Homo sapiens: one gene and its partner. The protein of the gene in region 1 purifies or fractionates together with the protein of each later gene. This does not show direct contact. Each region holds a gene or a part of one and is shown on either strand. Other genes may lie near its edges. The genes, in order: SEMA3E and GLDC.

What was found.
Region 2: the proteins of SEMA3E (region 1) and GLDC purify together in Homo sapiens (affinity purification with mass spectrometry; one large-scale study listed by BioGRID and IntAct). This does not show direct contact.

The regions. Positions count from the first base shown.
Region 1 is NC_000007.14:83,646,259-83,650,811, forward strand, and holds the start of SEMA3E (semaphorin-3E isoform 1 precursor), read right to left. Parts: upstream 2,882-4,553; 5' UTR 2,285-2,881; coding exon 2,170-2,284; intron 1-2,169. UniProt on the Homo sapiens protein: Plays an important role in signaling via the cell surface receptor PLXND1. Mediates reorganization of the actin cytoskeleton, leading to the retraction of cell projections.
Region 2 is NC_000009.12:6,639,228-6,643,049, forward strand, and holds part of GLDC (glycine dehydrogenase (decarboxylating), mitochondrial precursor), read right to left. Parts: intron 438-3,822; exon of another isoform or gene 1-437. UniProt on the Homo sapiens protein: The glycine cleavage system catalyzes the degradation of glycine.

The DNA of each region.
Region 1 (4,553 bases):
TCTTATTCCTAGTTTTTGAAGACTTCTAAAATATTCACTGAATTCCAGAGTCTAGAGAGATAAATGGGCTGTTCATATTGTATTGGTGGGACTGAATATCCCTCCTCTGACAGTATATATGCTCTTCTTTTCACTGAGGCCCCTGAGGTGCAGTAGGCATTTGCTGCTTCAGGTAGCATCTCCAGTGTGATCTCTTAACTGACTTTACTAACTAAATTGCACAAGTAGGAACATTCTATTTTCAGGTAACTCTCTCTATTCTGCCTTTGTATAAAAACATCATATTGTGCATTTTCAGCTGGTTCCATTAAATTCAAAGTTAAGGGAAATCCTGTGGGAGTTTTCAGTCTATTGTACATATAGATACTAGCGGTTTTACTCTCACACCATATGACACCACTCATAACATCAGTTACAATTATTTCTTTGAATATAAGTGACATAATAAAGATGAACTCGATAATAGTATTATGCATAACATTTACTTGTATCAGAGAACTTTGGTATTTTTTGATCAAATTATTAACTCTCTTATGAAATATTAAAATGTGACCTGTTGGAAAACACACTGATATTGAACCATGAAAACACAAGTACCCCAATAATAGGGTATAAAATGTTAATACTAGATATAACAGAATTGTAGCTTGCAAAAACTGGCAGCTTATCTACTTGTCTACATAAGAAAAACAATCAATTATATTTTTTTGCATTTTTATTTGTCCATATTCCATCACATCAAATTTGTACATGTTGACATCTTTGATGATAAACTTCTTAGAAATAGGCATTTTGATACATACCATGATACATCTTCCCAAGTTAAAAGATTAGTGTTAATTCTGGGCACTATATTTTAAACACTTTACCAATTTAGTATCAATGGATTTCTTAAATTTATATTATCTACTGGATAGTATTATAGGAAATCTATTTAAACTAAGAAAACATCCACTATTCTAAAAATGAAAAAATTTCTATAGTCAACATTTACTGAAGATTGTCCAATAAAAAGACAAAAAGGCCAAACGTGTCACATAAAATTGAGGACTCCCTTTTTGTTTCTCCTGATAAATATTCTACCTGTACTTAGAAAATACAAGCTTCTGTTCTTTCTACAGTGGGGGACAATTTAAAAGCTTACACAATTGAAAAATGATTCTTATGTAATCCTGAGTATTACATCTGCTATCTGTCTCAATGTGTCAATGGCTAGTGATAATAAATACTTCTTTGCTGACAATTTATTCCGAATTTATATTAAGTCAGCAAAGTCACTTTCTCTGAGCATGGTTTTGTTTATTATTTGTTTGTTTACAGGAGGAATTACCAAACCTATTCATGACTGGCTTGTATTGGTCCTGATGCAAAATCTATCTTTTAATCATTTATTTATGAGTATGATGTTGCTTTACAAGACAATTGTAGAATGAAATATTTAAACATTTGCTGTTAGATCTTCATTAAGGCAATATAAATTTACACTACAAATGCTAGTGAATACTAATACTTTAATCCATATTAGCCATTTTACAAGCATTGTCATAAACTATTTTCCTTTGCCACACATGAAAAAATTCTAATAATCAATTCAACTGGAAAACTAATTTATATTAGTTGTTAATCATTTTAATTACATGATGATGACAGTTATGGGTAGGGCATCATTTTTCTCCTCGGGATTTTTATTTTCTCCTCTTACCTCCATTATGGAAACAAAACAAAACAAAAACAAAAAGAACAAATTGCACCCCTATTTCTATAGCCCTTTCCCAGCATCCTTGTTTCTCATATGCATAAACTGATATTTAAATATCTACTGTTAACTTGGTGGATTCAGCCTCTCAAGGCTATTTTCAACCTGCTTCCTCCCTTCCTGTGTTCCGCGGGCTAGTGAGTGAACTCCTTATTGATAAAATCCAATGTTTACAGACAAAAATAACATCTCTAAGTTGACATGTGATTTTGCACTGTTTTCAGATGAGGTGAGTATGACACATTAATCAGAGGTACTTAGAATTTTAGGTCAGTTTTGCAATAAATTTTTCAGGTGCATTTTAAAGGTCTTTGAAGACCATAAGCCTATGTTAATGTTAAACGACTTTTTTTTTCTTTTTTCTTTTTCTTTTTTTTTTTTTTTAAACAAAAGGATCTGGAAAGGTAACCTACCTTTATGTGACAGGCGTAACCGGGGGTGGGTAGTATCAGCTGTATGACCTCCTGTCCAAAGCTCCAGTAAGTAACCCCACAGGAGCAAGGTGATAATGTGCCCCGCGGATGCCATGCTGCCGTGTTCACCGTCCAAGCCCTCGCTCCTCACTTTAAGGAGGGTCTGAGTTTTACTTAGGACTTCCCTCCAGGGGCAGCGTGCGAGAGGCTTTGTCAGAAATCGAACGCGTTGTCATCAGAAAGCACAGTTCCGAAGTGCCATTTGTCAGGCTGTATTTGGCTATGTAAAACCTTTCTTTCCTCGGGACAGTTGTTTATAAGCCGGGAGCAAGAGGACATTCCAAAGAGTGAGTCTTCAGAGCCATGTCCTGTCTAGAGCGCTCTTCAGCAACTACGCCGGTAGATTCAGGAAGAAGCTGTATTTTTCAGTCACTTGGGCAAAGCTGTTCATTCAGAAAAAAAAAAAAAAAAGAGAGAAAAAAACAAAACCGAGCACACGCACTCCCTTCTCCCGTGGAGGTCCTCTCTTCGGGCTCCTGGAAGCCTCTCAGAAGTCAGCCTCTTGCACTGACTTGCCAAACTGCTAGTTTTAATTCACCTTTCACCTTGCTAATTAAAAACAAGAAGTGCCATTCCCTCTAGGAGTCGCAGGATCCACCCAGCAGGGATGCAGTCTGTCAGTGGCTGTTTACAGGAAAGTTCAGGCAGGGTTGAGCAGCGTACTTGCTGTTTCTAGGAAGTATTTCTGGTCCACGTGCCTCGCTCCCATCCTCCCTCCCAGTCATAACCAGCCCCACGTTACTCAGCAGCAGGAGAGAAGTCCACATTTTGATGGGGGAAATGGGGAGTTCGGGAGGGGTGATGACATAGACTGATTATTTAAGAATAGGTGACAGACAAGGATGTGGCATCAGAAAGCGCTTTTAAATTCTTACCAAGATAAATTGACCTAAGTTGAATAAATCCAACTTCTTTTGAAAATAATCTATTTGTAACCATCCAGAATCCAAATTCTGTTTTTCACTGTTGCCATAAGGTTTTTTTCAAAATTAAGTCTTTTTCTATTGCTTATATCTTAGGGATGTTATTTTTAAACTCTTTTAAGAAAAGTGTGTTTCAAGAGCCTGAAAAAAAAAAGTTCATCTGTGACTGTCTCATAAATTTGATAGAAATGATAAATTATTTACTTAAGCAAATTGGTCAAATGAAATTAAAGGCAAATCCTTTGTCCTAAAGCAATTCCTAAATTTTACTTCAAATTTAGGAATGTTGAAGTAATTTCCCCCAGGTAAGGTAACTGGCAAAGTTGAGATTCACCACCCAAGGGATTTCTATAAAGCAGGTATTAGAAAACTTAGGATGTGCAATACCTTAGGATTCAACTGCTATGGACTTCCAGAGTTGATTTTCCAAGGCACTGTGTTTGTGTAAATAAGCTTAACACAATAGGTCAACTTTACAATCTACCTTCAATCAATCTCAAAAACTAAGCCAAACACTCAGGAGCTGTTGGCATGGAAATGAATGGTATTATGTTAAGATACCAATAAACTTGAATAGATATTTGATTTGATAGTGGAGAGTTAAATGGTAAACACTGATCTCAACTATGATAACTTTTTCTTATTCTGTATTTTAAATGCTAATAGTTAAAAACTTTTTGAGAATTATGTTTTAAAATCACGAAACTATAACAAAAAGATAACATGTGTCACCCTGATATTTTTGCATTATATAGAAGCATATGTACAGCCAGGCATTCTCTACCCATTTTTCTAATCATGAGATGTTCTTGTACAAGCAGAGTATATTTAGCAAAATGTAAATGTCACTGGACATTATAAATAATTAGATTTCCAAGGTCTACAAAAGATAGCAAACTCTAAACATTATTTAACAGTAAAATGACATGAAGTTATTTAGAGACTTTTAACCTGGAATGCTTGCATATTTTAAAAGCCAGTCTGATGAGCTACAGACCTAAAGGTTGCTCTAAATGTGATACATTGTACCTTCAAAATTCTCTTTTGCTTTCTTCTAGGATGGAAACAAATGACAAAATAAATAGCAGCTCTTATATGTGTTATCTAATAGTAGGATTATAGGAAAAGTAAATGTGGTGCCTACACCTTTTATTGCAAATTCATGGCTACTCTCACATAGCTGAAATTCTACTTAAGATTGCATAGTGCCTGTCCTAACTCTACTATAGAACTGAGACAATGTGAGACATTACAATCATTTCATTAGTACACAAAATATGCACCTCTAAAGTGTTGACAAGAGAATATATGTTATGAATGCCAAGATCTGTCTTTGGTTTTACATCTCATCCTTCAGATTAAGTTGGAGCAATTTAGAAGTAAATGCCAGAATAATGGGTT
Region 2 (3,822 bases), on another chromosome or scaffold:
AAAGGTGTCCACAGCCACAAAAAAAAAGAAGATCCGCACATCACCCACCTTCCGGCGGTCCAAGACCCTGCGACTCCAGAGACAGCCCAAATATCCTCGGAAGAGCGCCCCCAGGAGAAACAAGCTTGACCACTATGCTATCATCAAGTTTACGCTGACCACTGAGTCGCCATGAAGAAGATGGAAGACAACAACACACTTGTGTTCATTGTGGATGTTAAAGTCAACAAGCACCAGATTAAACAGGCTGTGAAGAAGCTCTATGACAATGATGTGGCCAAGGGCAACACCCTGATTCGGCCTGATGGAGAGAAGAAGGTATATGTTCGACTGGCTCCTGATTATGATGCTTTGGATGTTGCCAACAAAATTGGGATCATCTAAACTGAGTCCAGCTGCCTAATTCTAAATATATATATATCTTTTCACCATAAAAAAAAAGTATATATATATATATATATGGACAAAACAGATTCTGCTGTGAGGGACTACATATACAAATAGACAATTACCAGACCATATTTAAAAATAGAACTTTCACCCACACCTGTCCAGGAAACTAACCCGCTTACTTAGAATAAACAATCAAGGAAGCCAGCCTGCTACAAGTTAGACTTACAGAGAAAGCCAGATTGCTATCTCTAGTGACAATCCAGGAAACCGAACAACAACTTCCCTAACAATTGGCCCCAAATGGCCAGAACTCGATTAATAACTGATAGCTTCCCTAATTTTTGTCCCACTTCCAACATAGGACCAACCAGGCTAAGCCAAACATGTACCCATAACCAATCACATCAGTTGCCCGACTTCTAGTAAATCCTCAGACAGCTTCCCTTGTAAACAACCTCCAATCAGAACACACCTAAAGGCTTCCCTTTTTTCCACAATAAAGCTTTCCTCTCCTCTGCCAATATGCAAGTCTGACTCCCTTGCTACAGCAAGCTCATTACAGCCTTTGTTTCTCTCATTTAGCTAATCTTTACTGTTACAGTCATTTAATGGAAATTTATTGGAATCATCCTAAAGAAGAAATAATAATTCCTATAAGCTGGGAATTGAATGAGTCGGGAATGGCCAAAGGAAAGCCTTGTCACAGACTGCGGGGCCTACAGGCAGGACCTGGCAATGGGCATCATCTGGCTAAAGACAAGTCGTGGCCTCGGCCTGGGGAACAGCTGCCACGGCCTAGTTGCCCCTGGGGTCAGTTCAGGAGAGTGCGCAACCCAACTAGGGTGACAAAGCCAACACCTGCAGCTGCATTACACAATGCTCCCTCCCTCCGCTCACTGCCCTCCATTAACCATTTAGTAGAAATCACTCTGGAACATTCAGCTGGCACAAGTCCATCATTCTGACAACTCATCTCCTCAGTTCTAGTTGAATAATGTGAACATTGGAGGGTTTAGTTTCTCCTCTCTCTTCCACAAGCAATGTGCAATTTTGTGTAAACTTTAATCCCTGCAGTTTATCTATGATTAGTTCAGTCTAGTTCAGTCTAGTTGCCTTGAGATGAATTCACTGAAAAGACTACACAGCGAGGCATACCATAGCTAAAAGTAACTGGCTTTGGTCATAAAGTAATTTTTAACTTTGAATTAATTATAAAATGAATACCTACACTGCAGAAAATTCCAAAACTGCAAAGTAATTAAAGGAAAGCTAAAACCACTAATAAGGGCACCATTCAGAGAAATCAGTGTTGCCAGTGACACATATCCTTCTAGTCCTTTTGTTGTTGTTGAGTGCGTGTGGATGGGGAATGCAGGATTCACTTGAGCAGGACAGGATTTTGAACTGAATAGCTTTGCTTGTTTCTCTGAATAATGACTTACTTAGCAGCCAGTTCATGATCAAAGTATTTTGTCAAGGCACTTTCTGAATTGTCCAAGAAGAGGGGGAGCATCCTTAGTGACTGATGAACCACCCGTCCTCCCCTGGTTCTGTCCGGCCATTCTGTCCTATACATGTTAATCCCACTACCTCCAGCAGCCTCCCCCAGATTTATCTAGCAGAGCATCACTGCTCATTCTTCAGTATTGCACTTCCGTGACCCCTTCCCTTGCCCTAGCAGCAGGCTTGAGTGTTCCCACGTCTGTGCTGCCAGGAAGCTGCTGCGTTTCCACTGGGGCAGTTGGCATATGGCAGGGTGATTCTAGTGCAACTGGGTTTGTGCACATCTGTAAACTGGATATTCCAGGTGAGTCAGGACAGAAGTTTTCCACTTTGTACACCCACGACCTTGCAAAGGACAAAATGAAGAGAGAGCAAAGTAGTGGATGGAGTGTGGACAGTGGAGCTGGGCTGCCTGGGTTTGAATTCTGCCTCCATCACTTACCAGCTATGACCTTGGGCAAGTCATGCATCATCTGAATATCACGGTTTCTTCATTTTTAAAACAGAAGTATTAATGGTATTTTCCTCATAGGGTTGTAATATACATTAATACATGAAAGCACGTTAAAGAGTGTCCAGTACATGGTAAGCACTACATAAATGTCTGAGATTACTGAGTTATGTGTAATAAGTAACCCAAGTATTTCCAAACTGATCACAATCTTTACTCTGCAATGAAGACATTTAACACTCCTATAACTAGCTCTCACTACAGTTTTCTCTGTACATGGCAAATAAATATTTAATCCAGAATTCCTTTCTGACTACACTAGAACACAGGCATTCACATGAAGCCAAGTTTGAGTAATGGTGCTCCACTATTAAATGGAAATGCTACTACCAGAGCTTACATGCACCAATTTGCTCTCCCCACCTGGAGAATATTCATTCACCATGACACGTGCACACCTCAGAGTCAAAATTCATCCTTTGCAGATGCATCCTCCTCCACTCTCCCAACACCCCCAGCTCACTATTCCAAGAAACAAGCTTTGTTGGAGAACTGGTCCATTTCAGGGAATGGGGGGACTTCTGATTGTGCAATATTTTCTGCGTGAATCATCCCAAACTAGATGGAACAAGCTCAAAATGTCACAGAAGCTGCTAGGTTTAAAATTTATATGGCATGGGCATGGTGGCTCATGCCTGTAATCCCAGCATTTTGGGAGGCCAAGGTGGGTGGATCACCTGAGGTCAGGAGTTCAAGACCAGCCTGGCCAACATGGAGAAACCCCATCTCTACTAAAAATACAAAAAATTAGCCGGGCATGGTGGTGCACGTCTGTAATCCCAGCTACTCAGGAGGCTGAGGCAGGAGAATGGCTTGAACCGGGGAGGCAGAGGTTGTAGTGAGTAGAGATCATGCCACTGCACTCCAGCCTGGGCAACAGAACAAGAATCCATTTCAAAAATAAAAATAAAAAATAAAAAAATTAAGTTTATATTCAAGTTGCAAATTACTTTTCAGGAGCCCACTTCCACAGTGAAGAATCAGAATCCCTTAATGTTCAAATTATTCAGCTGGAACCAAGAACTAAACTAAAAAAGGATACACAACTTTGCCATGTTTCCCAGGCTCTAATGCTCTGAAAAGAACACTTTATTTTAGAGTATATATATTATAAAAATAGCTAACCTAAACATTCCCTGACTTTGAAAGTCTCAGGAAGGGATTCACTTGTTCAAATATTCACCTAAAATACCCTGCTTTAAAGATACACAACTCTTCACTCTTCACACATCAAATGAATTAGGATTCTGATTTTTTCTTTTCTTCCTTTCTCTTTTTTTTTTAGACAGGGTCTCACTCTGTTACTCAGGTGGAAGTGCAGTGGAGCCATCTTGGCTCGCTGCAACCTCCACTGCCCAGCTCAAGTGTTTCTGCCACATTAGCCTCCGGAGTAGCTGGGATTACAGGCGCACACC